4 linked regions of the Homo sapiens genome follow. The protein of the gene in region 3 interacts with the protein of the main gene of each other region in a pairwise test. Each region holds a gene or a part of one and is shown on either strand. Other genes may lie near its edges. The genes, in order: ATP6V1D, APBB2, BBLN and IKBIP.

Region 1 (8,083 bases), on a different chromosome or scaffold from region 3:
GGAAAGTGCAGTGAACATTTTTACACATATGTATTTTTGTTTCTACTGAATTATTCCCGTAGGATAAATTTTTGAGAATTGGATTATTTAAAAGGCATGAACTTCATGGCTTTGGTGACATCAGTAAATCCTTTACAAAGCATACAAAATAGCTTGCAAATGTGTTATGCCAATTTACATATGTTATGTAATTCTCCAAATAACACTATGAGATAGGTAAGGCAAGCATTGTTATTCTCAGTTTTAATTAAATGCCTTCCTGAGGTCACTTGGCTAATTAGGGGCAGAGGCAGAAGTTGTTTTCAAGGTTTCTGATTTTATTATTTTCCTAATGACATGATGCCTATTATCTAGGAGCTTTCACTGCTCTTGGGCCTTAATAAGGCCCTTTGAAGTGGTAGGCTTTCATTTTTGCCAGTGCTGGTAAGATCACAGCTTGCATTGAATTTTCTAGCAGAGGGTGGAGATCAATCAATAGTGTATAAGTGGTATGTGAGTGTTTTAGGGTGGTTATGGGGAAGATACTTTCTATAATATTTATTTTTGTTTTGTTTTGAGATTGGGTTATGAGACTGGCTAATTTTTGTATTTTTGAGTTTCACCACATTGCCCAGGCTGGTTTTGAACTCCTGGCCTCAAACAATCCTCCTGCCTCGGCCTCCCAAAGTGCCAGGATTACAGGCGTGAGCTATCGCACCCTGCCAGGAAGGCACTTTCTGGTAACATTTGAGAAGTCACACAAAGCCAGATGGAACATAGTTTCCAGGGTAAAGGAATTGAACGCCAGCTTAACCAATTCAATAGCAAACCTAGAAAGGAGTTTTCTCTATCTCACACTAGCAGAAGAATCCTTAAAGTTATATCCATGTAGCACACCTCTGACTGAAAACATAAGCAATCCACGAACTTTAAAATCATTCTTTGTTCTTTTCTTACTGCTAATGTTTTGAATATTGTTCATTCTCTGCTTTCAGAGGCCCTCCTCTAGCAGTAATGACTTTTCTCCCTTTTTGGAAAAAGGACAGTTATCAAAACATACTTAATTGTGACATCTCACTCTTGGTCTCATTTAATGTTAAAACTATCCAGTGGGTCCCTGTAGGTTTATTTCTGAAGAGTCTGCTAAATAAAGTCTTTCTCTTTTTCTGCAGCACTACAGTTATCCAAAATGTCAATAAAGCGCAAGTGAAGATTCGAGCGAAGAAAGATAATGTAGCAGGTAACGTTTCAACCTTTTAGAAACCCTTTGGGGAGAAAAGAGGTGACATTTTAAAATTAACCTGTTTATACAGCAAGATCTTAATGTCCTAGTTTCTTCCTTCTACTTAGAACAAGTTGATTGGCTTTACATGTTAAAATCATTAACAACCAGGTTTCTAATTACTCAGGATAACTTGACTTTTGTATAGAAGTGAACACTTAAGAAGGCAGGTTCCGGCTGGGCACGGTGGCTCATGCCTGTAATCCCAGCACTTTGGGAGGCCGAGGTGGGCGAATCACAAGGTCAGGAGTTCGAGACCAGCCTGGCCAACATGGTGAAACCCCATCTCTACTAATAATACAAAAATTAGCCAGGTTTGGTGGCACGCGCCTGTAGCCCCAGCTACTTGGGAGGCTGAGGCAGGAGAATCGCTTGAACCCGGGAAGCGGAGGTTCCAGTGAGCCGAGATTGCACCACTGCACTCCAGCCTGGGTGACAGAGCAAGACTCTGTCTAAAAATAAAAAATAAAAAAATAAAGAAGTCAGGTTCCACTGGATGTGGTGGCTCACACCTGTAATCCCAGCACTTTGGGAGGCTGAGGTGGGCGGATCACAAGGTCAGGAGTTCGAGACCAGCCTGGCCAACATGGTGAAACCCCATCTTTACCAAAGAATACAAAAATTAGGCCGGGTGTGATGGCTCACACCTGTAATCCCAGTGCTTTGGGAAGCCAAGGTGGGCGGATCGCCTGAGGTCGGGAGTTCGAGACCAGCCTAATATGGAGAAATCCTGTCTCTACTAAAAATACAAAATAAGCCAGACGTGGTAGCGCATGCCTGTAATCCCAGCTACTTGAGAGGCTGAGGCAGGAGACTCACTTGGACCCAGGAGGCAGAGGTTGTGGTGAGCCGAGATTGCGCCATTGTACTCCAGCCCAGGCAACAAGAGCGAAACTCATCTTTAAAAAAAAAAAAAAATTAGCTGGGCATGGCATGTGCCTGTTGTCCCAGCTACTCAGGAGGCTGAGGTGGGAGAATCACTTGACCCCAGGAGGCGGTGGTTGCAGTGAGCTGAAGACCACACCACTGCACTGCAGCCTGGGCGACAGAGTGAGACTCTGTCTCAAAAAAAAAAAAAGAAGGCAAGTTCCTAAATTCATTAATTGAAACCAATTACAATTCCATACTTAAGCTCTTGATTTTTGAGTTTGATGAAAAAGAAACACAGAAAACAGTGATTAAGAAACAGAATTTAGGCCAGGCGCGGTGGCTCATACCTGTAATCCCAGCACTTTGGGAGGTTTAGGCGGGTGGATCACCTGAGGTCGGAAGTTCAAGACCAACCTTACCAACATGGAGAAACCCCGTGTCTACTAAAAATACAAAATTAGCCGGGTGTGGTGGTGCATGCCTGTAATCCCACCTATTCAGGAGGCTGACCAGGAGAATTGCTTGAACCTGGGAGGCAGAGGTTGCGGTGAGGCGAGATCACGCCATTGCATTCCAGCCTCGGCGACAAGAGCAAAACTCCGTCTCAGAAAAAAAAAAAAAAGAGAGAACTTAAAGGTTTATGAATCCATGTATGCTTCTGTGTTTAACAGGTGTTACTTTGCCAGTATTTGAACATTACCATGAAGGAACTGACAGTAAGTGTGAAACTTTTTGTATTACTTTGTGTCTCTGGGATTTCCTGTTTCCTCTTTAAATGAACTAAGTTCTGGAAAATGGTGCTAGATGTTGAGAGGTTCCTGAGTTAGAAATCCTCTTATTTGATATAGTCAGGACAATAGTTGATCAGTTAATCAAAAGGTCTTAAGGCCGGGCACAATGGCTCATGCCTGTAATACTGGCACTTTGGGAGGCTGAGGCAGGCAAATCTCCATCTCTACAAAAAATATAAAAAATCAGCCAGGTGTGGTGGCACGTGCCTGTAGTTTCAGCTACTTCCAGGGCTGAGGAGGGAGGATTGCTTGAGCTGGGGAGGTAGTTGCAGCGAGTTCTGATCACGCCACTGCACTCCAGCCTGGGCTACAGAGCAAAACCTTGTCTCAAAAAAGAAAAAGGTCTTATGCTAGGAAGTCATAAAACATTATACATATCTTAAAATATTTCAATATTTTATCAGAAATATATCAATGTAGAATCACTTGCTATTTAAAAAATATAAGGCCTTTTGAATATGAATTCACTGATTAGACTTCTGTGTTGTTTTTCTGCATATCCTACACCCACAATGCACTGCTTATAATTCCCAGTTTGGGTCTCTTTAAAGTCAAATAAGATCTTAGACACTGATGCAACCTGAATGCTGATTCTTTCTAGATTTTTATAGCCCACTTCCACTTTTTAAATAACTGTCTTATTCATTCCATTCCTAGTTTGACAGCATATTTTCTTTCCAAAGTAAAGTATTAACTTTTTTCATAGAAACAATATTCTTGGCCAGGCACAGTGGCTCACACCTGCAATCCCAGCACTTTGGGAGGCTGAGGCAGGTGGATCACCTTAGCCCAGGAGTTTGAGACCAGCCTGGGCAACATGGTGAAACCCCGTCTCCACCCAAAAAGTTACAAAAATTAGCTGGGCCTGGTGGCATGCGCCTGTGGTCCCAGCTACTCGGGAGGCCGAGGTGGGAGGATTGCTTGAGCCTGAGAAGTGGAGCTTACAGTGAGCTGAGATCGCACCACTGCACTCCAGCCTGGGTGGCAGAGTGAGACCCCATCTCAATAAATAAATAAACAAATAATATTCTTTCTTTTGGCACTTGTATTTCCTTGCTTCATGTGATATTTAATTAAATCATATAGAATATTAAGTACATTTCATACGAAGAAGTAGAGCATTCTAGAGAGAGTCACCTGTTCACAGAGTGTCATCGTACTCTGGGCATCAGGCAGTATGATTTTCAAAGGGAATAAGGGGCATCAAGCTAGTGAAGTGAAGGTTGGTTAAAAGCTTCCTTTGTAGTTATATTTAGAATAGTATTCTTGTGGGAAACTGTATTTAGTAGCATGCTCCTATAGTGTTTGGGGAGTGAGATAGGCACTTCATGTTTACATTCAATGAAGATTAGTGAATTCATCTTTCCATATTTGTTATTATTCTGAATTATCTCCTTTTGGGGAATTTTATAGGGAAGATATTTTACTCTAATTAAAAATGTTGTCTGACTGGTCCTTTCAGGTTATGAACTGACTGGTTTAGCCAGAGGTGGGGAACAGTTGGCTAAATTAAAGAGGAATTATGCCAAAGCAGTGGAACTACTGGTGGAACTAGCTTCTCTGCAGGTAAGTAGCAAAAGACCTGGAGAACTCCTGTAGTTTGATTTGTAACAGTCAAGTGGAGGAGAGTCAGGTCTTGAGTCAGCATATACTGTGCTTTGTACTTTTAACTGTTCCCATGATCCTATGTAAAGCAAACATAATATTTTGATTTCTGAAGTGATGGCTTTTGTACCATTGTCCCTACTTTTTAAAATTTATGTATTTTTTATTTTTTTGAGATGGAGTTTTACTCTTGTTGCCCAGGCTGGAGTGCAATGGCGCGACCTCGGCTCACTGCAACCTCTGCCTCCTGGGTTCAAGTGATTCTTCTGCCTCAGCCTCCCAAGTAGCTGATTACAGACATGTGCCACCATGCCTGGCTAACTTTTGTATTTTTTGTAGAGACAGGGTTTTGCCATGTTTGTCAGGCTGGTCTCGAACTCCTGACTTCAGGTGATCCACCCGCCTCGGCCTCCCAAAGTGCTAGGATTACAGGCATGAGCCACTGCACCTGGCCCCTACTTTTAATTTAAAAATTTATTTATTTTTCGAAATGGGGTCTCACTGTGTCACCCAGGCTGGAGTGCAGTGGCATAATCCCAGCTCACTGCAACCTTAACCTCCTGGGCTTAAGTGATCCGCCCACCTCAGCCTCCTGAGTAGCTGGGACTATAGGCATGCCCCATCACACCTAGCTAATTTTTGTATTTTTTGTAGAGGTGGGGTTTCACCATGTCGTCCAGGCTGGTCTCGAACTCCTGGGCTCAAGTAATCAGCCCGCCTCATCCTTCCAAAGTGCTGGGATTATAGGTATGAGCCACCACACCCGGCCCCTGCTTCTTCTTGTTAACAAAATGTATGTGCTATGGTACACTCTTGTTTTTTTTGTTTGTTTGTTTGTTTTTTTCTTTGAGACAGAATCTTGCTCTGTTGCCCAGGCTGGAGTGCAGTGTTGCGATCTTGGCTAACTGCAGCCTGGATCTCCTGGGCTCAAGCAGTCTCCCGCCTCAGCCTCCCAAGTAGCTTGGACTACAAGTTTGTGCCACCTCGCCTGGATAATATTTTTGAATTTTTTAGTTGAGATGAGGTCTTGCTACGTTGCCCAGGCTGGTCTCAAACTCCTGGCCTCAAGAAATCCTGCCATCTCAGCCTCCCAAAGTGCTGGAATTATAAGTGTGAGCCACCTCACCCAGCCCAGTTTCACTCTTTGCTAAGTAAGAATAGCAAGTTGATACTAGATTTAAATGTAAATGTAAATAAACATCGTTTGTGCATGGAAGACCATTTTTTCCCCTATGTGGCCAGTTAGTATATATCTAGGTTATTAATGCTTGATTCTTTCTTGTCATTTTTATGTTGTTATTTAGGTGAGACTATAGTAAACAAATTATAATAGTGTCAACTCAAGTAAAGCCTGTTGAAGCAGAAATGATTTGATAAAGGTTTATTGAAAGCCAAATGTGAGGATTGACCCGGGAAGACACCAACAAAGTTGGGTGTGTTCTAGAGTCTGCTACAAGTTGGAAGGCTTTTATGGGAAAGTTTAGGAGAAGGGAGGACTCCTCATACCCAAGTTGTCCTTTTCATTGGCGAGTACAATACAGAGGTCACAATCATTGGCTACAGATTACAAATACAAGCTAAAATGTTCTACATGCAAGTAAATCATGAAGTAAAACTTCATGAATCAGAAACAAATCAGTGTCATTTTCAGCGTCAGTAGGTTGCATATTAATCAGTATGTCAGCAGTCTGAGAAACTTAAGATTTCCTTACTCAGGGACAGGATGTAAACCATGAATCATAAGATCCCTCAATCTGCCCAGGCAGGTTAATTTGGAAACCTACCAAATGTGACATGTAGGTTATCAATAGCATGGAAATAGTGTTAGCCCTATGGAAATCTCACAAGAATTTTGTTTTTGTTTTGTTATGAAGAGACAGGGTCTTACTCTGTCACCCAAGCTGGAGTACAGTGGCACAGTAATAGCTCACTGCAGCCTCAAACGATCCTCCCATCACAGATTACCAAGCAGCTGGGACTACAGGTGCATGCTACTACACCCAGCTAATTTTTAAAATTTATTTCTTGTAGAGGCAAGGTCTCATTGTGTTGCCCAGGCTGGTCTTGAACTCCCAACTTCAAGTGATTCTCCCACCTCAGCCTCCCAAAGTATTGGGGTTATAGGCGTGAGCCATGCGCCCAGCCTAAGAATTTTGTTTTTTAAGCATGCCAAAAAGAAGTTGTCTTGGTTCTCAAATGTTTTCTACAAGTGCAGTCTTAGTGGAGTCAAGTGATCAGGGAATGATTAGGAAGACTTTGTGCTTACATTATTAATTTGTTCTTATTTTAGACTTCTTTTGTTACTTTGGATGAAGCTATTAAGATAACCAACAGGCGTGTAAATGCCATTGAACATGGTGAGTATTAGGTACTGTGAGGTGCTTTGTCACTTGTCCATACCCTCCACTTGTCGTGAAACTGCTAGAATTCAGGGACTGTACTGAAGACTGAAAGATGAATAAGATGCTTCCCTTGCCCACAGTGCAAAGAGAGAAGTGTGTCCATAGTAAAAAAAAAAAGTGTTATGAAGTGTTCTGATAGAAGTACTTGTATGATCTGGGGGAGTTACACACATAGGAAAGTGGTGACTTAAAAATTATGGAATGTTTTCTTCATTTCCAGTTATTCATGCAGTTATTTAAGGGTAGGAATATTTCTCAAGATCCTTAGTGTTTTCTGTAGTTCTTTCTAATGGTTGAGTGATGCAACTTTTTGAGTACATTAAATATTTAACTTTAAATCAGTATAAGCCATTCTCCTTGATTTCTAAAAAATTTCCCATTTGATGCACTTATTTTCCATCTCTTTTATTTCACTATTTAAAAAATATGACTGCTTAGTGTTGATGGTACTTTTTGCTCAATAAACTTAGTTTTTATTAAAGAAACACTCAATTTTAGGTAAGAAAGCAAAATTTGAAGTAAAGAAATTCCTTTGCTTGGGAATTTCTATATTAATGCTAGTGAGAAATATATTAACTATTATATTAACTATGTATAATATGATATATTAACTATATTGTTAGAAATATATTAACTGTTATATTAACTATATATTAACTATATTAATGTTAGTGAGAAAGTTACCTCATTTTTTAAAAAACCTTTTTGACTGCTTGCTAGTGCCAGGCCTTGTACATGAAAGTGGAAGCAAAGAAAAAAAAAAAAAAAAGGATAATTCGTAGTTCTTACCCTCAGAGTTCACATTCTAGAAGCTGAACAGGTAAACTATGTAAAGTCGAGCCTAATGACGTAAACTCAATCGAGCATTCTCTCTGCTCGATTTTTTAACAGTTGATTGCTACTATATTTAAAATAACATCTGTGCTTCAATGTTATATATTCATAGAATTCAGCACATTCAGTGTTGTATTTGTTATGGTCCAATAGGTTATCTATGCATAGAAAAGACACTAGAAGGGTATACACCACCATGTTTACAGTAGTTACTCTTTTGGATGGTTGGATTATACTCTATTTTACTTTTTTTCTTTGTGTTTTTTTTTATTTTATTTTATTTATTTATTTATTTATTTATTTATTTATTTTATTGATCA
Region 2 (8,333 bases), on a different chromosome or scaffold from region 3:
AAATTACAAAAATTAGCCAGGCGTGGTGGCGGGCACCTGGAATCCCAGCTACTCAGGAGGCTGAGGCAGGAGAATTACTTGAACCTGGGAGGTGGAGGTTACAGTGAGCCAAGATCGCGCCACTACACTCCAGCCTGGGTGACAGACTGAAACTCTGTCTCAAAAATAATAATAATAATAATAATACTAGGCACTGAACAAATGCTGGTTTCCTAACCCCATGTAGGAAAATAAGTATTCCCCCCATAACCAGTAATAACTTATTACAATATTTTCCTAAAAGTCTGTCCCACCTGCTCCCCTCCCCCGCCCCCGGAAAACTTAAGGTGTTATATCACAAGGGTATTGTCCAGTTTTGTTTTGTTATTTATTTACTTATTTATTTATTTTATTTATGTATTTATTTTGAGACGGAGTCTCACCCTTTTGCCCAGGCTGGAGTGCAGTGGCGCGATCTTGGCTCACTGTAACCTCCACCTCCCAGGTTCAAGTGATTCTCCTGCCTCAGCTTTCCCAGTAGCTGGGATTACAGGCGGGAGCCACCACACCCGGCTAATTTTTGTATTTTTTTAGAGACGGGGGTTTTACCTCTTGGCCAGGCTGGTCTCAAACTCCTGACCTCAAGTGATCTGCCCGCCTCAGCTTCCCAAAGTGCTGTGATTATAGGTGTTAGCCACCGTACCCGGCCAGGTATTGTCTATTTTTAAAATGAAATTGAAAAAGGTACAGAGACACGACATACCATTTTTCTTATTTTTTCCTTCAACTTTTAAGTTCCAGGTACGTGTGCAGGATGTGCAGATTTGTTACACAGGTAAACATGTGCTATGGTGGTTTGATGCACAGATCAACCCATCACCTAGGTATTAAGCCCAGTATCTATTAGCTATTCTTCCTGATGCTCTCCCTTCCATTTTTCTTAAAAGATAAATTTAGATATCCAGTACTCAGGATAGTCCACACACATCATTATTCTAATATTATGACAAGGCTTTCAGTATTCATTCCTGTGGTAACAGAAAAATAAAAGAATTCAATGTTCATATGCTGTTTTTCTGGTGGCAGGAAAAGAAAACAGTCATCAAAAGGTTGAAACATGACAAAAAGTACCAGTTTAAAAATATTTTATGTTTGTACATGTGGATTCTTACAATATATGCAATAGTTTTTTCCCAAGTAATTTTGGAGTCAGTATTCACATTACTCCAGCTAAGTGTAAACACCAGTATTTTGCACTTTAGCTCATCAAGCTTTCTTTTTTTCAGAAACAGGATCTCACTCTGTTGCCCAGGCTGGAGTGCAGTGGCGTGATCATAGCTCACTACAGCCTCAAACTCCTAGGCTCAAGCAATCCTCCCACCTCACCATCCAGCTTTTCAATTACCACTTTATAAAAATTTCAGAAAGCCAGTTCACATTGGCTCCTTGAAGGTGAATTTATTCAGTTAAAAGTATCCATTAGAAGAGGGAATAAAAGCATAGGACCTAAAAACCTTCTGTGGAAAGGATCTCAACTTTAGAGTCGTCTCTCAAAGGCTCTCAGCAAATATCTAGAGACGTGGTTACATCCAGTTTACGAAGACTGTCGGTGACTTCGGGGTCATACAGTACATGGACAACGAAAGAACAGCAATTGAAATCTTGTACTTGTACCCCACCACCTTCCGCCCTATGATCAACCCACTGTACTCTACTGCCACCTGTGTTCTCTCGGCATTTCCCCAGCCTGGAGGTTTCCCCATTCTCGCCACAAATACCATCCTTCACGAACGATGCCATTTCTAGGATGTTGCAAGTTATGATAAACAACTGTTGAACAAATATTGCTTACAAGCTACAAGTTGAAAACGAGAAGGTTGCTACCTAAGTTCATGAAGAAATCCCCTTTCAAGGATTCCATCTGTTCCTAAAAGGCCAGCCACACAAATTCTAATACTCTGCATTATTATGGCCATTTGGGGACAAGATTTTAAATCTGAAACCATGACAAGAAAAAAAAAAAAAGCAAGATTTAAGAGAGTAAACTCCAGAAACAACAGATCAAACTGCCATTGTGTTTGTTTTTTTTAAATCAGTGAAATATTAAAACAAATGATAAACCCATGCCAACCTCACAAAGTTTCCTCATTCCTTGGAATTCAAACACCACCGATGGCATCATTTTATGATAATCCTTTGGGTATTTCACGTAAGTAATTAGACACAATGTAAAGCCAGTGACTGAGGGACTTAAACAAACTGTCCCCTCCGAGAGCCCAGTTGGAGCTTCCGACACTGACCTTATTCTCCTCTCAATTTTAACCCTCCTCAACCACTCAATCCATCCAAAAACGTCTGTGACAGTCGTGGCTCTAAAACCGCGCAGAACTTGACTACAGAACGGTCGGTGACAACTCCACATATGATTTATCCAAATTAATTTATTTTTTTGAATTCTAGTCCCATGCTCCCTCGGCTGTTTGCCCCGAACCCGTAGTCTACACCACTTCACCGACGTGAAGACCACCTTTCATTGTTTCTATGGGTCTCAGCATCCTTCCCTCCGTCCAGCTCTGTTCTCGCCGCACAAATGTCATTTCTAGCGTACCACCCTCCATTCCGCCCGGTGGGCAGCGCAGGGGCTTTCGGGTCCCAGTGGCCAGTTTCCTGGAGTCGGTCCCCTATGCACAGCCATTTTCTAGTTAAACGCTCTCTCTGCCACCGAGGGGGAAAAGGAACTTTTCCCCCCTTTCATGTCTCATGGGCTGGCCTCTGAACCCCTCGTGGAGAAGCCAACCCCGGCTCCAACTCCCCGGCAGGAGCGCGCTGCCGCCCAGGAGAGACAGCCGAGCGGCACAGCGGAGGCCGGTGCCAGGACAAGGGGGTGTGCGCTCTTCCCGCAGGCGCCCACCCTCACTTTTCCCCTCTGCAGTCCCCACCCGGGCGCACCGCCTCCAACCCGGTCTCCCCCGCCCCAGGCCCTGCCAAGCCGGGGCTGCTGAGGGAAAGAGGGCGCCGGGAAGCGGGAGGGATGGAAGTCAAGGAGAGTGAGCCCGCAGTCGCCGTGCCACTGGCCCTGCGGCGCGGGCGCAGGGCGCACGGGACTCCGCAGCAGGCGCCCCGCTGCAGATGCCGCGGCAGCTGCTGCAGGTGTGGCTGCGGCTGAGCGGGCAGCAGTGGCCGCGGAGCCCCGGGGCCGGGAGCAGAGGAGAAGCCGCCGGGGGAACCCGCAGCCGCTCGCCGCACGCTGCTGCCGCTACCCGGGTGTTTCCCCAGCACTCTCGTGCTGCCCCGGAATCCGGGGCAAAGGCAAGGAAGAAAGCTGGGCTCACCAGTGGTGCGCGCGGCGCTCGCCTCGGCTCCGGCGCCCAGCGGCTCTGCTCCAGTCTCGCCCTTCCCGGAGCGCCCAGATCAGATGCGGTTACAGCGCACTAGCTTCCTACTTGAGACCAGAACGGGCTCCGGCAACTGAGCATGCTCAGTGCCGTTCCGCGAGTCCCGCGCAGGGAGCGGCGCTGACGAGATTCCACTTCTCCAGGCTTTGGCAGCGGCTGCGCGAGGGAAGGCTGGAGGGACCCGGCGGGGAGGGGGCCGAATGGGAGAAAGGCGGGGCCGGGGGGTGGGGGCCGGGCAGAAGGAGGCGGGCCGCGCTCCCAGGGCGACCCCTGCAGGTGGAGGCGGCAGGGCCTGCGGGAGGCACCCTCCCCAATCGCCTGGGAACACGCAGGGAGGCAATGGGTCCCCCAGTAAGACCCAAAGGCAGGACGTGCAGTGCAGCCCGGGTATCCCCTCCGTGTGGCTGGTGTCTGTCTGCACCAAAAGGCAGTTGGGTTACCTTAGCCCTGGCTTTTCTCCCACACGCCAGCATTCCCTTGCAATAGGAAAATGTCCCCACAGGAGAGCTGCCCACACCCACCCAGGCTAACTGCAAGTTGTAGGCGACACCTTCTCCTTCCTTCTACCTCCTATCCCCACCCCCAGGCATATGCCGCACACACACTCTTCTTTGATCCGGAAATCACAAGATAATATCAGGGGAGAGATACAACTGCCGGAGAGGAAAAGGAGGTTTTCCTTTCCATTGCCAATAATATTATCTATAACTCTAATTGTAAGCGTGCAAACAAAGCCCTGATAAGAGTCGAGTCTCAGTAAACGGTAAACCGTGCTCTGCCCCAGACGCTGTGAATGACATCCCCAAAGTATCCTTAGGATTGCTCTTCACCAGGGCAGCGGTTGTCAAACTGGAGCCTGGATCAGAATCGCCTGGAGGGTTTGCTGAAGTACAAATCCCTGAGTCCCAATCTGTGTCTCTGAATGGGTAGATATGTGGTGGGGCCCAAGCATCTGTATATCTAACAAGTTCCCATGGGATGCTGATGCTGCTGGTGTGAGGACTATACACTTTAGAGAACCCTACCCATACACACACACACACACAGTCCTACCAAGGATCTCGAATTAAAAACTCACGTGATTCTTCCTATGAGGACTCTATGCAGTGGGGTGGGCATTACTTTATTCTTTCCTACATGAGTTTATTAAGGATCCACGAGGTCTTGTACTAGGCCTGAGGATAGTGGTGAATTTAAAAGCCCAGGCCCCTGCTTTCATGGAATTTATAGTCCGGCCGGGTGACAGACACCTATCAAATAATCACTCAAAACGGTTATTTCAAACAGGTAGAGTGCTGGGAGGGAAATGCACAAGGTGCGAATAGAGTGTATAGAGGGACCCTCATGCAGACTCAGTGAGGTTGTTACGAAGGGATGGGAGGGGGGCTGCCTTGTGGAAGGTGGTTTCTGACTTTTGCACTCCAATAACCTCTCCAATTAACAATTATCTCCCTCAGACCGAGCTGGAGGCCAGCAATCATGTCCCTCCTTCCTACAACATAAAAACAATACTGTCACAGAGAAATCCCTATAAATTCATGAAAAGTGTTTACTCTTGGGACTGAGTCTCTGCACCCCAAGATCCACCTAACACGTCCGTGGACCAAGGACAGTCGAGGGCCACAGTAGACCTCTTGGGGAAAATACAGGCTCTCTGAACTGGAGAGCCTGTGGTTCTTAGTCTGTGATCTTCAAGGCCAAAGAGGCAAGGAAACCAGCCCAAGACCACCATTCCCGTCAGGAGCGGAGATCGACCAGCCTCCAACCTTGCAGACGGGTCCTCTTTCCAAGGCACTCTATTCCCGGACCTCACAGCTCCCCTCAGATCCCCGGAACCCGGCCTGGCCACCCCGCTCTCTCTCGGGGGTCCGGGGTAGGTGAGCGGAGCCTGCCCCTCCCAGGTCGGTCTCTTCCCGACGGAGAGGAAAACCCGCGGTGGAGTCCGCGGCGGCGGGGGGGGGGGGGGGGGGGGGGGCGGGGCGGCGCGCGCAGGCGCAGAGGCCGCCAGGTTGGGCCGAGGAGGCGCCCTGCTCCACACCTGATGCAATCAGCCTTCCGGAAACGGGTCCCGCTGCCGCGCTCACCCAGGAAACACTTCCGCGCCCTCCTCTGGCCGCTGAGCTCCCGGGGACGGGTTCCCAAACTCCCCCGGCCCGACTTCGCCACGGGCGGTGTTCTGCGCCCCGTCGGGGATACGCCGGAGAAGTCGGGAAGTCACTGCCTGGGCACACAAAATCCCTGAAATGCCCTGACAGTGACGTCGAAACGGCCACCAAGCGTTGCGCAGCTGCAGGAGGAAATTCCCTTAATTATGAATTTACAGAGGGGACTGATCGGGGCCGGAGGGAAGGCTTTGACCCTTCCCTTGCTTCCTTCCTTCGTCCGCCTCCCAACACATTGTCTCTCTCACTGAAAGGAACGTTTAACAGCAGTTTTAAGGCAGTATGGAGAGGAATCTCCATGCCCTCTGTCTTGCTAAATATGTAACAGCACTTTAGCTTTGCTACATAAAGCTTTCCCACCGCGCGCTCATTTTATAAATACGTAATTGGTTTCTGCATACCTCATCATTTCAGTTTACAAAGAAAATCATTTCTCGTTTCACCACTTCATGCAATTTTTATATCTATTGTGAGTGGGTTTTTTTCTTCATGCTGACTCACCCATTAATTGTTTTCCAAGGAAATGAAATATCCAAGAATATTCCAAGAGCATGTTTTTTAAAGCATGGAAGTAAACGCTGTGAACAGTAGATAAAACTGACCTCTCTTAAGTCCCTTAAGGCCAAAGGTCCTCCTAGGGAGTTGGGGGAAGGAGGCAGATCCAAGGAATTTTATTTGGAAGGATACCTCAAGACCATTCTAGAATCAAATCAAGATCAACTCTTAGACTTTACAGATGACATTTACCTCTCTGTGGCCCAGAGAAATAAATGACTTCTTTATTTAGACAAACCAAAGGCAGAACTGGCACTTGAAGCCAGATTTCTCAAAATTCCAATCTAATGGGGAAAAAAAAATGTTTTTTGCACAAACACCGTAGGGAGTGCAATACTATATTACAATGCAGTTTTACAATCCAAAGATTACAAAATACAAAATAGGTGACAACAAAAGGGATCCTATTACTTGTTCCTGTGACGTCATTAGTCTTTAAATAGTCCATGATCAACAAATATCCAGCCACTTCTAAGTGGCATTGAATAGCCAGAGTCTAGGAATTAAATATTTCAATTAAACAGGTATGAGTCAGGTGCAGTGGCCCAAGCCTGTAGTACCAGCTACTGGGGAGGCTGAGGCAAGAGGGTACATGAGGCTGGACGTTCAAAGTTGCAGTAGGATCTTGCCTGTGAATAGCCACTGCACTCCAGCCTGAGCCACACAGCAAGACCTCATCTCAAAACAAAACAAAAAAAACAGTATAACTACAAAACATCAAGAAATCTTCTGTGCCAACATTAAGAACTTCTAGTATTATTATTTGATTGTGTGGTATATGTGCAACGGTTTGAGCTTAAACCAAGGGAATTTTAATGATCACAACAAAATATCACGGTCATGATTTTCTTCTGTAATGATTTTAAATACTTTAACAATTTAGTAATCAAAGTGAAATAAAAAACAACTCAAAACTCATGCCTGCAATAAGATAAAATCTAATTCTTCAAAACTCTGTCTACCTTCTTATCTTGAGGAATGAATTTCTTTTTGGAATGTTCTGACAGAGATCTGGAGGAACACCTTCTATTGAAGCAAAAATAGAGTTGAGTAAATGTCAAAATGCAGAGGTACAAAATACACACTGTCACACGGTACTAGTTTTAGAATAGCTAACTCTTACTGACTATTTAGCATGTGCCAGATACTGGCTAAGCATTTTCCATAGGTTATTTAACTCAATCCTCACAACTACCCTATAAATGAAGCACTATTATTATCCCTATTTTATGGATAGGGAAAGTGAGGCTTGCAAATGTGAAGCAGCTAACTCAAGGCACAAAATATTCATTGGCAGAACTGGGATTTGAACCCAGGCAGTTTTCCTGGAGCTTGAGCTCTTAAATAATACTATGTATGGAAAAATGTAAATACAGAGAAAATGACTATAATGATTCTCAGATAAGAAAGGAGAGGGAGTATTGTACTTACTCTCCTAAAGATAAAACATAGTAAAATAAGTTTGTAGTCCACACTAGGAAAAAACCTTTTGCTAGCTAATAAATTATGGTCCCCAAATATAGGACCAATATTACCCAGAGGTATGAGGCAGATGATCAAATATCGAGTGATTTTTCAGGGGTACCAGCAAGGCCTCTTCTCTGATGAACCCTCTACGCCTGACTGGTTTCTCTAGTCCTAAACCATCCAATATGGCAGTCACTAGCCACATATGCTTATTTAATCTGAAATCACTTAAAATCAGTTAGAATTAACTCTTCGGTTCCTCTTTCATACTAGCCACATTTCAAGTGCTCAGTAGCATATGGCCTAATGACTACTGTATTGGATAATGTAAGTAAAAAGCATTTGCATCACTGCAAAAAATTGTATTCAACAGTGCTGCTCTGGGCCTTAATGTCATTAGGGCAATCCTTTAATCTCTCTTCATACTGCACTATTCCTGGGAGGACCATGTTTCCATGGTCTACCTTCCCATTGAGCTTCAGTCCTATTTTTCCAAACTAAAATTATTATTAGAGTGTAGAAAGGTACAAAGAGGTACAAAGCATAAAGTCCCCTACTATCATGGAAAGAATAGGGGCACTGGAGTAAGACCTTATTTCACATTCCAGCTCTTAGTAGTTGTGTGACCTTGGGCAAGCTACTTTACCTCACTGAATCTCACTTTTCTTATCTGCAAAATGGGCATGTTAATTTTTTCATTATAGGTTTATTTAAGATTAAATAACATATGTAAAGCTTCTGGTAGGCCTCACATAGGATGATTTCCTTCCTTCCA
Region 3 (7,877 bases):
ATGATCTTGGCTCATTGCAACCTCCACTTCCCAGGTTCAAGAGATTCTCCTGCCTCAGCCTCCCAAGTAGCTGTAATTACAGGTGCCCATCACCATGCCTAGCTAATTTTTTTTTTGTATTTTTAGTAGAGACGGGGTTTCACCATGTTGGCCAGGCTGGTCTCGAACTCCTGACCTTGTGATCTGCCCCCCCCTTGGCCTCCCAAAGTGCCTAATTGGTTTTTTACACTGTCATGCCCACCTTTGAGTGGTGCCTTTGTTTTAGCCTTCGTTTTGCATACTCACAAGCCAATCAGCATGCACTCCCCATTCTGAGTCCAGAAAAGCCCTAGACCCAGCCACACTGAGGGAGAGACTGCCCAACTTGGGGTGCGGGACCACTCTCACATCCCCTCTTTGCTGAGAGTTGTTCCATCACTCAACAAAATTATTCTCTGTCCTCCTCACCCTTTGATTGTCAGCGTATCCTCATTCTTCTTGGACTCCGGACAAGAGCTTGAGACCCACCAAGTGAGGGTACAAAGAAAGCTGTAACAGTGCTAGGGTTGAGCCAGCTCTGGAGCCACAGGCCAGAGCAGGTAACAGGGCTGACATCTTCCTGGACAGGGGTGTCACTGGCTGGGGGTCTCCGGCCGGCAGAATGACCAAGAAAAATCCTGTGTCACTATCATAAATCACCACAAACTGTGGGTTTAAAACAACACCTATATATTCTGGAGGTCAGAAGTTTGAAATCAGTTTGACTGGGCAGAAATGAGGGTCCACAGAGCTGTGCTTCCTCCAGAGGCTCTCAGGGAAGCTGCTCCCTGCCCTTCCCAGCTTCTCATGCTATCTTCCTTGCACCCCTTAGCCTGTGGCTCCTTCCTCCTTCAAAGGCAGTGGAGCATCAGCAAATCTCTTTCTCTGCTGAGGGCCTCACTCTCAGCCAAGGAGGGCAGGCTAGGCTGGGCACCATGGCTCACATCTGTAATCTGAGCACGTGGGGAGGCTGAGGTGGGAAGATCACTTGAGTCCAGGAGTTTGAGACCAGCCTGGGCAAGATGGTGAAACTCTGTCTCTACAAAATTGAAAATATTAGCCAGGCGTGGTGGTGGTATGCCTGTAATCTCAGCTAATCTGGAGGCTGAGGTGGGAGGATCACTTGAGCCCAGGAGTTTGAGACCAGCCTGGGCAAGATGGTGAAACCCTCTCTCTACAAAAATAAAAATATTAGCTGGGTGTGGTGGTGGTGCACCTGTAGTCTCAGCTAATCCAGAGGCTGAGGTGGGGAGTTTGAGGCTGCAGTGAACTATGATTGTGCCACTGCACTACAGCCTGGGCCACACAGTAAGACTCTGTCTCTAAAAAAAAATTAATTAATTAATTAATTAAATTTTAAAAAGGAGGTGAGCCTGACCTGGATGAGAGGCCGTTCCCCAAAATTCTTTGGGTGCTGGTTCAATGTCCTTCTTGCTCTCGCTCAATCTAGTTCAGGGAGGAGAAGGCAGGGCTGACCATGTGCAAGTCGCTGGAGACCCTCACAGCAGGCTTCAGATTCCACCATGCCCCTGCCTTCCTCAGGTAGAACAGTGAGGGTGGCTTCTGGGACAAGAGAGGATTCCACCCCATTGTCATTGTCTGGGATACATGCTTGGGCCTGACCTGGCATTGAGGATGGCCTGCCCACAGGGACAGCCAGTGTGAGACCAGGTCCAGGCTGCTGCAGCCATGATGCCTCCATGCACTACAGCTACTGGAGTCCCAGTAGGTGAGCCCCTCTGCCTAGAACGTGGGCCTGATTCTCAGCTGGACCCCTGGGCAGGATCATAGCTCTGGGTCCAACCCAGGGGTGACACTTGCCGGCTGGGTGACTGTGGGCAAGCCGCCTTCTCCTAGCTGGAAGTAGAATGTGGGATGACAGCAGCTGGGCCGATTGTCATGAAGCCTTTCTTGATGAGCAGTCCATGAAGCACTCTGCCCACGGCCCTCTACCCTCCACTGCAGCACTCACAGGCGGGGGCAGCAAACCTTTCCTTTATTGGAGAATGTGACACACAGTCCTGGGTGGGTTTGAGGTGAGCTTGAACTAAGGGAAGCCTCACCCCTGTCCTGCCCCTGTCCCAGTTAAGGGGCTCTCCCTAAAATGAACTATTCCTACTTCTCTTTATTTTTTAAAAAATTAAATCTAGCCAGGAATGGTGGTTTACACTTGTAATCCCAGCACTCTGGGGGGCCAAGGCGGGTGGATCACCTGAGGTCAGGAGTTCGAGACGAGCCTGGCCAATATGGTGAAACTAAAAATACAAAAATTAGCCGGGCATGGTGGCATACACCTGTAATCCCAGCTACTCGGGAGGCTGAGGCAGGAGAATTGCTTGAACCCGGGAGGCAGAGGTTGCAGTGGGCCAAGGTCGCACCACTGCACTCCAGCCTGGGTGACAGAGTGAGACTCTGTCTCAAAAAAAAAAAAAAATTAAATTTTTATTTAATCTTTTTTTCTCTTTGGCTTCTCAAAGTTCAACTTAAAAAGGTAGCTCCAGGGACCAGGCGCGGTGGCTTATGCCTATAATCCCAGCACTTTGGGAGGCCGAGGTGGGCTGATCACGAGGTCAAGAGATCGAGACCATTCTGACAAACATTGTGAAACCCCGTCTCTACTAAAAATACAAAAATTAGCTGGGCGTGGTGGCGTGTGCCTGTAGTCCCAGCTACTCAGGAGGCTGAGGCAGGAGAATCACTTGAACCCAGGATGTGGAGGTTGCAGTGAGCCAAGATTGCGCCATTGCACTCCAGCCTGGCGACAGGGCAAGACTCCGTCTCAAAAAAAAAAAAAAAAAGAGGTAGGTCCAGGCCGGGCATGGTGGCTCACACCTGTAATCCCAGCATTTTGGGAAGCCAAGGCAGGTGGATCACCTGAAGTCAGGAGTTTGAGACCAGCCAGGGCAACATGGTGAAACCTCGTCTCTACTAAAAATAAAAAAAATTAGCTGGGTGTGGTGGCAGGCACATGTAATCCCAGCTACTCAGGAGGCCGAGGCACAAGAATTGCTTGAACCCGGGAAGGAGAGGTTGCAGTGAGCTGAGATCATGCCACTGCACTCCAGCCTGGGCAACAGAGCAAGACTCTGTCTCAAAACAAACAAACAAACAAAGGTAGGTCTGCTCCAGGCCAAACTTTTTATTTATTTATTTTTTGAGACGGATTTTCGCTCTGTTGTCCAGGCTGGAGTGCAGTGGTGCAGTCTCAGCTCACTGCAACCTCTGCCTCGTGGGTTCAAGTGATTCTCCCACCTCAGCCTCCTGAGCAGCTGGGATTACAGGCACACGCCACCACGCCCGGCTTATTTTTGTATTTTTAGTAGAGACGGGTTTTCACCATGTTGGTCAGGCTGGTCTCAAACTCCTGACCTCGTGATCTGCCCGCCTCGGCCTCCCAAAGTGCTGGGATTACAGGCGTGAGCCACCAGGCCTGGCCTTTTTTTTTCTTTTTTTTGAGACAGGGTCTTGCTCTGTTGCTTAGGCTGGAGTGCAAGGGCACGATCTCTGCTCACTGCAACTTCTGCCTCCCAGTTCAAGTGATTCTCCTGCCTCAGCCTCCTGAGTAGCTGGGACTACAGGCGTGTACCACCACACCTGGCTAATTAAACATTTTATTTTTAATTAATTAATTAATTTTTTTTTTTTTAAAGACAGGGTCTCACTCTGTTGCCCAGGCTGTAGTGCAGTGGTGCAGTCATAGCTCACTATAGCCTCGAACTCCTGGGCCCAAGTGATCCTCCTGCCTTAGCCTCCCAAACAGCTGCAACTAAGGTGCATGCCACCAGGTCTGGCTAATTTTTTTTGTGCTTTCTGTAGAGACGGGGGTGGGGGGGGCTGAGTGGGCGGGGGTGGGAGTAGGGTGTCTCACTATGTTTCCCAGGCTGGTCTCCAACTCCTAGGCTCAAGCAATCCTCCCACCTCGGCCTCCCGTAGCGCTGGGATTACAGGTGGGAGCCACCCCGCCTAGCTAATGTTCCTGTTTCTCTTGTCCAGAGCTGGAGTCCAGCCTGATTCCCACCCACAGGTTGTAACCAATGAGCCCTAAGAGAAGCGCTGAAGACCAGGAAGGCCCAGATCCAGGGGTAGGGGTGTTGGGTCCTCTCCACTGGGGTGCAGGCAGAGAGGCAAAGAGGAAGGAGACCCTTCGTGACTCTCAGCGAGGCTGTGAAGAAGAATATCCGGAAGCCACAAGAGGTATATCCGGAAGCCACAAGAGGTGTGGAAACCCCGTTTCCAAGGCTGGGCCCAGTAGCTCGTGCCTGTAATCCCAGCATTTTGGTAGGCTGAGGCGGGTGGATGGCTCGAGCTCAGGAGTTCGAGAGCAGCCTGGGTAACATGGCGAAACCCCTCCCCCCCCCCCCCCCCCGTCTCCAAAAAATACAATAGCCAGCGTGGTGCAGCCGTCTGTAGTCCCAGCTACTCTGGAGGCTCAGGTGGGAGGATCGCTTCAGGCTGGGAGGCAGAGATCACCCCACTGCATTCCAGCCTGGAAGACAGGGCCAGGCCCTATCTCAAAAAATAACAAGGAAACCCCGTTTTCGATTTCGCCAACGCGGAGGGGCCGAAGCAGCAGATGGGCTTGGACGGTCTCCCGCCGCTCCTCCCGGACCTCCCTACTCCTGGGCTTTTCCAGGGGCAGCCCCGTGGTGGCCCCGCCCAGCGCCCGGGAGAGGGGCGAGGCCGGGGGCGGAATGGGCGGAGTTCGACTGTGAGGGAGGTGGAGGCGGGAGTCCGGTGGTGGGGGTGGAGTCTGGAGGTAGGGCGGGGCCAGAACAGCGGCGGGGGCGGAGTTCCGGCTGGGGGCGGGGCGGGGCGGAGCGGGAGCTGCGGGATTCCGGCTTCAGGGGCGGGGCACCGGCCTCTGGGCGGAGATCTGCTGCCGCGTTCTACCCTTCCGGCCCGTGTTCTATCCGCCGCCTCCACCTTCCATCCGGCGCCGGCTTTCGGCGCGACGGTCGCCGCGTTCCATCGTCGCGCGGCCCTTCGGGCGCCCGAGCCCGCAATGTCGGGCCCCAACGGAGACCTGGGGATGCCGGTGGAGGCGGGAGCGGAAGGCGAGGAGGACGGCTTCGGGGAAGCAGGTGACCCGAGGGGGCTGCTGGAGCAACCTTGCATTTTCAGGGCTGCCCTCCCGGGAAGGGGAATCGAGATGGGGTCTCGGAAGGGAACAAAGAGCCCACCCATTCCGCCCCGAGCGGGTCCGGAGTTGTAGGTGCTGTCTCGGATGCAGGGCGAGCACCCGCGAGCCGGTTCCCAGCCCCGTGAGAGCTGCAGGTCACCAGTCCCGTTTTACAGATGGGGAAACTAAGGCAGCTTCGGGGACACTCGCCCTTGTGGGCCTTGCTCCACCACTTCCTTCAGTCCTGGGGGAGACCGAGGCACCTGAGGGAGGCAGGGTTGAGCTTAGCGGAGGGGCCGGGCCGGGACGTGGAGTTGGGGACGCGGGGGCGTCGCTCTGCCGATTCAGCATCCCCAGCCACCCGGCTTTGCTGGTGTAGCCTCACAGCCTTGCCAAATGTCAGCAGCTTACAGAGCAGCCTTTTGCGTGCTTACGAGTGCAGGGGTGGGGTGTGAAGAGAACCATCGGCTCCCTTCTCACCTTCTTCAGCCTCAGTTTCCCCCTCTATAAAATAGGAATAACGATTAGTGTCTGCTGCACTGGGATGTGTCAGAATTAAATGCAAAAAAAAGGAAAATCCTTAGCAGGTTCTAGCATGCAAGAGTTCAGTAAATGGTTATCGTCATTATTATCTTTGGTATAGTAAAGATTGGCATGTTAACATACACTGAGGATTTAGTAAATGTGGTGTAAGTATGGTGCATGCTCTTTGTTTTGTTTGGCGTAACAGCTTTATTGAGCTATACAACTTACCCATACTGTACAGTTCAGTAGGCTTTTGTGTATTCCCAGGGTTGTACATCCATCACAATAGTTTCAGGTAGCTCTGCATTGGGCAATGCTGTTGGGAGCATCAGGAAGAGCTTCCCAGGAGGTCACATTAAGTGGATGTTGGCAGACAGGACTTAGAACAGTGGGGAGGAGGGTGGTGTCCCAGGCAGAAGCAAAGGCTTGGAACTGGGAAGTACCCTTGACACAGATAAAGCCTGGCCTGGAGGGGTGTGGGGCACCTGCCTCCCCAATTCCTCCTCCTAGCCTGTATCCCAGGACACAGAGTTCGAAATATTGATAATAATGACCATCCACTAAGTACTTGCTGTGGCCAGATCCTGTCTGAGCTTTTTTTTTTTTTTTGAGTCGGAGTCTTGCTCTGTTGCCCAGGCTGGAGTACAGTGGCGTGATCTTGGCTCACTGCAACCTCCGCCTTCTGGGTTCAAGCGATTCTCATGCCTCAGCCTCCCGAGTAGCTGGGACTACAGACGCCTGCCACCACGCCTGGCTAATTTTTATACATCTTTAGTAGAGACAATGTTTCACCACGTCGGCTAGGCTGGTCTCGAACTCCTGACCTCAGGTGATCCACCCGCCTTGGCTTCCCAAAGTACTGGGATTACAGGCGTGAGCCACCACACCGGCCACTGTCTGAACTCTTGATGTGTTTGAATCCTCACAACCTTTTTTATTTTCCCTTTTTTCCAGAAAGGTACAACTTGCTGGGGTAAAGCAGAGCTGAAATTCAAACCCAAGTGACCCTGACCCCCAAGTCCAATCCTGAGTTTCGGCTGTTACCAACCTGGAGGACCCTGGGCAGGTTCCTTCCTTCTGAGGCCTCGGTTTCCCTAGCTATATACCATGAGGGGGTTGGACTTTAAGATGCAGCCGATTTCCCAGGACGCTGTCGTCTGTGAGGGTGGCTGGCTCTAGGCAACGGGTGCCCTTTCCTAGAACACAGGCACATATGCACCCATAACCCAGATACGCTCCTCCAGCTCCTCCACCGGCTGCTTCCCCCTTGGTCTCAAGCTGGCAGCTGAGTGTATGTGAGTCATGGGCTGGCTCAGAACTGGGTCCCGCAGTGGGCACAGGCCCAGACCTTGAGTCCTCAGGGACACTGTGTTGCTGAGCAGGGCAGCTCTGGAGTGGCCGTGGAGGGGAGGGAGTGATGGTTTCTAGTGGAGACCAGGGAAGGCTTCTTGGAGGAGGCATTTTGAGCTGGTCCTTGAAGGGCTGTTGTGGTTGAGGCATTCTAGGTTGCAGGGATAGTTGAGCAATGGCGGAGAGGCTGGAAAGTCAGAGGCTTCATTCATTCACTCACTCAGTCATTCAACAAATGCTTATTGCAAAACTGTGAGGGCACCAGGGAGCCAGCAGCGAACACAGGACCGTTCATCTTTCATGGGGAAACATAACAGCACTCAGATAAGCACAGCAGTCAATCCTGGAGAGAAGGTCGTGGAGGGCTGAGGAGGGCTAGGGGCTCAGCATAGAGGCCTGATCCAGTCTGGGGCATTGGGTGGGCTCCCGGTGGTGACATCCATACTGAGACTTGAAGGATGAGTGGGACTCATCCAGGAGGAGAGAAGGGAAGGAAGATGGGAGGACCCAGCACCTTCCAGGCAGAGACAGCAGCATGTTCAAAGGGCCTGAGGTAGGTAAAGGCAGGTGTGAGAGAGGAAAGGAAGAGGCAGGGAGGCAGGGCTAGCTAGGAGGCAGGGGCTGGAGACTCCGCTGGGTGTTTTATCCTGAGGGAGCCACAGAAGGGCTGGCGAACAGGGCCCATCTGGGGACAGAGGCCTTGAATGCCCAACTCAGGAATGTGGGCTCTGGCCACTAAGCAGCTGCTGCAGGAAGTGCAGAGACTTGGCATCTGGCAGGACTTCCCATGTAGGACACTGGCTCGCCACCCTATGACCACCCTAACCCTAGAAAAAAGGATGCAGTACTAAAGTGTCATTCATTC
Region 4 (4,040 bases), on a different chromosome or scaffold from region 3:
TACAAAAATGTGTTTTAGGATATTGGTAATTTTCCCTAAAGAAAAGACTAACAATGTAATTTAATATTTGATACACAGGAAAGTTTTTGAAATTTTAAGCATCTGTGTTAAATAAATGAATGGAAGAAAGAGAGAAAGACAAATTAAGTACATCTAAATCTCTCTAATAATTTCTTAATAGGAAAACCTCTTCATAAATACAGGATATATCTATCTAGATATCTATACATACATACAAACGCATATATACTTTAATAGTTTTCTCATGTTATACTTGTAGAAGTGCAGTTTTCTTCCTTTCCCTTGTGTCATTATAGAGAACAGTAGCCACCTTGTTTCCATTTACTTTCAGTAACCATTACCATGGTATATATAAGTTCATAATAACCTCATATTAAATGTGGTGATCGGTGAGAAAAAAATATTTAAACGTAAAGGATATAAGATAAGAGATCACATTTGCCTTGACAGGATGGAGGTTAAAACAACAAAGTTCCAGCTTACTTTATAATCTATTTTATTACCATTAATATAAAAGTAAACAAATAGAATTTTGTCAGTGCACGCAAATAAGAGACATTCAGAAGTCAAGAAGTGTAATTTTAAGACTGCAAAAATTAATGCTATGCCCCTTAATAACAGAACTCTCCAGGCTTATTTTCATGATTCACGCTGTCTACCACAGGCCCTCCTAACTCCAGTGGAGAAGGAGTTTGGGGGTTCTCCAAAAACTTGCAAATTTACATATTAAAACTACTTGACCACAACTACCTTTTTGTAACTGACTGCTTTCAAGTTCTTTGTGTTTAATTCCATCAAAAACTGCATTATAAAACTGGTAAGGTTATTGACAAAGAAACAAGAACAAACTTCCATATTGCAGTTGACTACATTATATAATTTCAAATAAAATAAAATCAATTCATAAAACAAATTTAGTGGTGTGGTTTGGGAAATCTTTAAAATGACGTATTTTTAACTATCATAGTTATTATCATAATTAATTATCAGAGTTATGTTACTTTTCCCTCAAAACAGGCCACAGGCTTATTTTTATTTATTTATTTATTTATTGAGACAGAGTCTCACTTTGCCACTCAGGCTGGAGTGCAGTGGCGCGATCTCGGCTCACTGCAAGCTCTGCCTCCCGGGTTCACACCATTCTCCTGCCTCAGCCTCCTGAGTAGCTGGGACTACAGGCACCCACCACCACGCCTGGCTAATTTTTTGTATTTTTTAGTAGAGACAGGGTTTCACCCTGTTAGCCAGATGGTCTTGATCTCCTGACTTCGTGATCTGCCCACCTCGGCCTCCCAAAGTGCTAGGATTACAGGTGTGAGCCACTGCGCCTGGCCTATTTAAGTAAACCATCTAGAGACCATGGATCTAGCAAACTCATGTCTAACACAGTTGGAACCTAAAACTCAGGTATATAAAGATATTTCAAAGATTTATATACACATAATTCCTAAGAAAGGCCTTATGTAAGAACATACTTACTCTGATTTTAAAAGTCTTACAAGTATCTGTAACACAGTTTAGAACCTTAACAAAAACTAAAATGTTTCCCAGGCTTTAGAGTTTTCAGAAAGTGCATATTAATTCATAGCAAAGGCACCAGGCTCTCCCTCAGGCATGTTATCTTTTATTTTACACAAAATTCCCATGAACTTGGTTGTGTGGATTCTTAACCTGCAGTGAATTACCTAAGAAAGTGAACTGGCTGAGGCAGGCACATTACCAACCAACCTGACAGTAAGTTCAGGTGACAGAAAAGGTATGAGACATAGGTTTGAAAATGGCAAATTGGGGTCATTTAGTGAAGTGGTAAATACTCTTTATTAGCCCCTGGAGACATCAATATATGTGGGTACAATATAATAGGTGAAATTAATGATGATGTTCATTAATGCTTTAAAAAACATTAAAAATATTAAGTATCTTGTTTTAAAAGTAGAGAAATATTTTTAAAGAACTATTTCTATTTCAAATAGTTACAATGAAGTAAGTTTTAGTGCTTAAAAAGATAAGCTTTGATTATGTGGATAATCCATTTGTGTGGACATCTCATTTATTTTCCAATAATGTAGGATAAGATGAGGCGTATCAAAGTAACTCAAAATCAATGGACTAATCAATTTATGTATAATGATATGGTTCATCAGAATAAATGTCATGAATTTAAAAATCACCACCAATTCCTTTATTTTCTATATTATATTCTTTTAAAGTTCCCTTTTCTCCTGTACTTGAGTATGCTATAAAATCATGAACTTTTTCTTTTAGAATATCCAGTTCATTTTGCATCTTTAATATGCTATTATCATACTGAATTCCTTCAAGGGTTTTCTGCATCTCCATTATTTCAGACACTGCTTTCAGCATATCATCTTCCATATTAAACATCTGCATAGTCAAGTCTTCCATTTTCTTTTCTGTTTCTATCAGATCCTGAGAGACTCTGAGAACAGAGTGAATAGCACTTTCAATTGTTGGCAAATGTGTCTTGCATTCTTCAACTTTGGGTTCGTAGTCGGAAAGTTTATTAGTCAGATCTTCATCTCTGGCAAAGAGGGCATGCTGTTCCTCTTCTAACTTTTCAATTGCCTTTGTATCAGAGCCTAGCTGCTCCTCTACTCGCAGGAGATCTTCTTCTTCTTGTCTTTTTACTGTTCTAATATTTCTTAGTGTGCTATCTTCCAAATCTTTTAGCCGTTCAGTGAGCAATTTTATTTCCTGCTCAGCTGAGTTAATTTGGACAGTTACTTGAGAATGTATATGTTTTGCTTCTGATTTGAAAATGTCTGTATTAATGTTCATTTCTTCTAGGCTTCTCTTCCAGAAATCCGTAATATTCTGAAATTTCTCATTAAGGCTTTGCATCCTTTGAGTGAGCACCTCTTCATTATTTTGAATGTCATGCATGATATCTTGGAGGTTGGATACTTCCTGCTCAAACTGGGTCATCAAAGACATGGATGATGTAGCTTCCTGCAGGATGCTTTCAGTAGACTCAAGCTGCATTTATAACACAAAACAATTCCCAAGGCTACTTAATAATTTTCATATTAGAGAAACACACTTTAACAATCAGGAGCATAACACATGCCACGTTAAAATTCTGAAGATGTCTAAAATATCCAAGTATATCAGAATCAGACTGACAAAGATATTTATTACATTAATAGTTTTCACAAATACGTTAACCCTGCATTGTTTTATTTATTTATTTATTTTTTAGACGGAATCTCACCCTGTCACCCAGGATGGAGTGCAGTGGAGCAACCTCAGCTCACTGCAACCTCCGCCTCCCAGGTTCAACGTATTCTCTTGCCTCAGCTTCCTGAGTAGCTGGGATTACAGGTACGCGCCACTATGCCTAGCTAATTTTTGTATTTTTCGTAGAGATGGGGTTTCACCATGCTGGCCAGGCTGGTCTTGAACTGTTGACCTTTAGTGATCCGTCTGCCTCGGCCTCCCAAAGTACTAGAATTACAGGCGAGAGCTGCCGCGCCTGGCCAGCACTATGTTAAAAAAAAAAAAAAATACACCTGAACACACAATCCTAGATATTTCAGCATTTCTATGGAAGCATATACAAGAGAAAAGTAATGTTAAAGTGCCTGAAATAGATGCAATTTCCTCCTTTTAACTCTAATGGTAAGTAACTTTGATGTCAGTTTTCTTTTTCTTTTTTTTTTTTTTTTTGAGACGGAGTCTCGCTCTGTCGCCCAGGCTGGAGTGCAGTGGCGTGATCTCGGCTCACTGCAAGCTCCGCCTCCCAGGTTCAAGCCATTCTCCTGCCTCAGCCTCCTGAGTAGCTGGGACTACAGGCGCCCGCCACCACACCCGGCTAATTTTTTGTATTTTTAGTAGAGACGGGGTTTCACCGTGTCAGCGAGGATGGTCTCGATCCCCTGACCTCGTGATCCGCCCACCTCAGCCTCCCAAAGTGCTGGGATTACAGGCGTGAGCCACCGCGCCCAGCCCTCGATGTCATTTTTATGGTTTTTTGGCTTTTTAGAAACTGCAACTTTGTA

What was found.
Region 1: the proteins of BBLN (region 3) and ATP6V1D interact in binary tests that used the Homo sapiens proteins (3 or more experiments, as listed by UniProt).
Region 2: the proteins of BBLN (region 3) and APBB2 interact in binary tests that used the Homo sapiens proteins (3 or more experiments, as listed by UniProt).
Region 4: the proteins of BBLN (region 3) and IKBIP interact in binary tests that used the Homo sapiens proteins (3 or more experiments, as listed by UniProt).

What each region holds. Positions count from the first base shown.
Region 1 is NC_000014.9:67,342,173-67,350,255, reverse strand, and holds part of ATP6V1D (V-type proton ATPase subunit D), read left to right. Parts: intron 1-1,151; coding exon 1,152-1,219; intron 1,220-2,802; coding exon 2,803-2,847; intron 2,848-4,384; coding exon 4,385-4,488; intron 4,489-6,817; coding exon 6,818-6,884; intron 6,885-8,083. UniProt on the Homo sapiens protein: Subunit of the V1 complex of vacuolar(H+)-ATPase (V-ATPase), a multisubunit enzyme composed of a peripheral complex (V1) that hydrolyzes ATP and a membrane integral complex (V0) that translocates protons.
Region 2 is NC_000004.12:41,211,094-41,219,426, forward strand, and holds the start of APBB2 (amyloid beta precursor protein binding family B member 2), read right to left. Parts: upstream 3,450-8,333; 5' UTR 3,312-3,449; intron 1-3,311. UniProt on the Homo sapiens protein: Plays a role in the maintenance of lens transparency, and may also play a role in muscle cell strength. Involved in hippocampal neurite branching and neuromuscular junction formation, as a result plays a role in spatial memory functioning.
Region 3 is NC_000009.12:128,155,388-128,163,264, forward strand, and holds the start of BBLN (bublin coiled-coil protein), read left to right. Parts: upstream 1-4,877; 5' UTR 4,878-5,020; coding exon 5,021-5,099; intron 5,100-7,877. UniProt on the Homo sapiens protein: Essential for intermediate filament organization in intestinal cells, interacts with intermediate filament and regulates intestinal lumen morphology.
Region 4 is NC_000012.12:98,623,749-98,627,788, forward strand, and holds the end of IKBIP (inhibitor of nuclear factor kappa-B kinase-interacting protein), read right to left. Parts: intron 3,019-4,040; coding exon 2,182-3,018; 3' UTR 501-2,181; downstream 1-500. UniProt on the Homo sapiens protein: Target of p53/TP53 with pro-apoptotic function.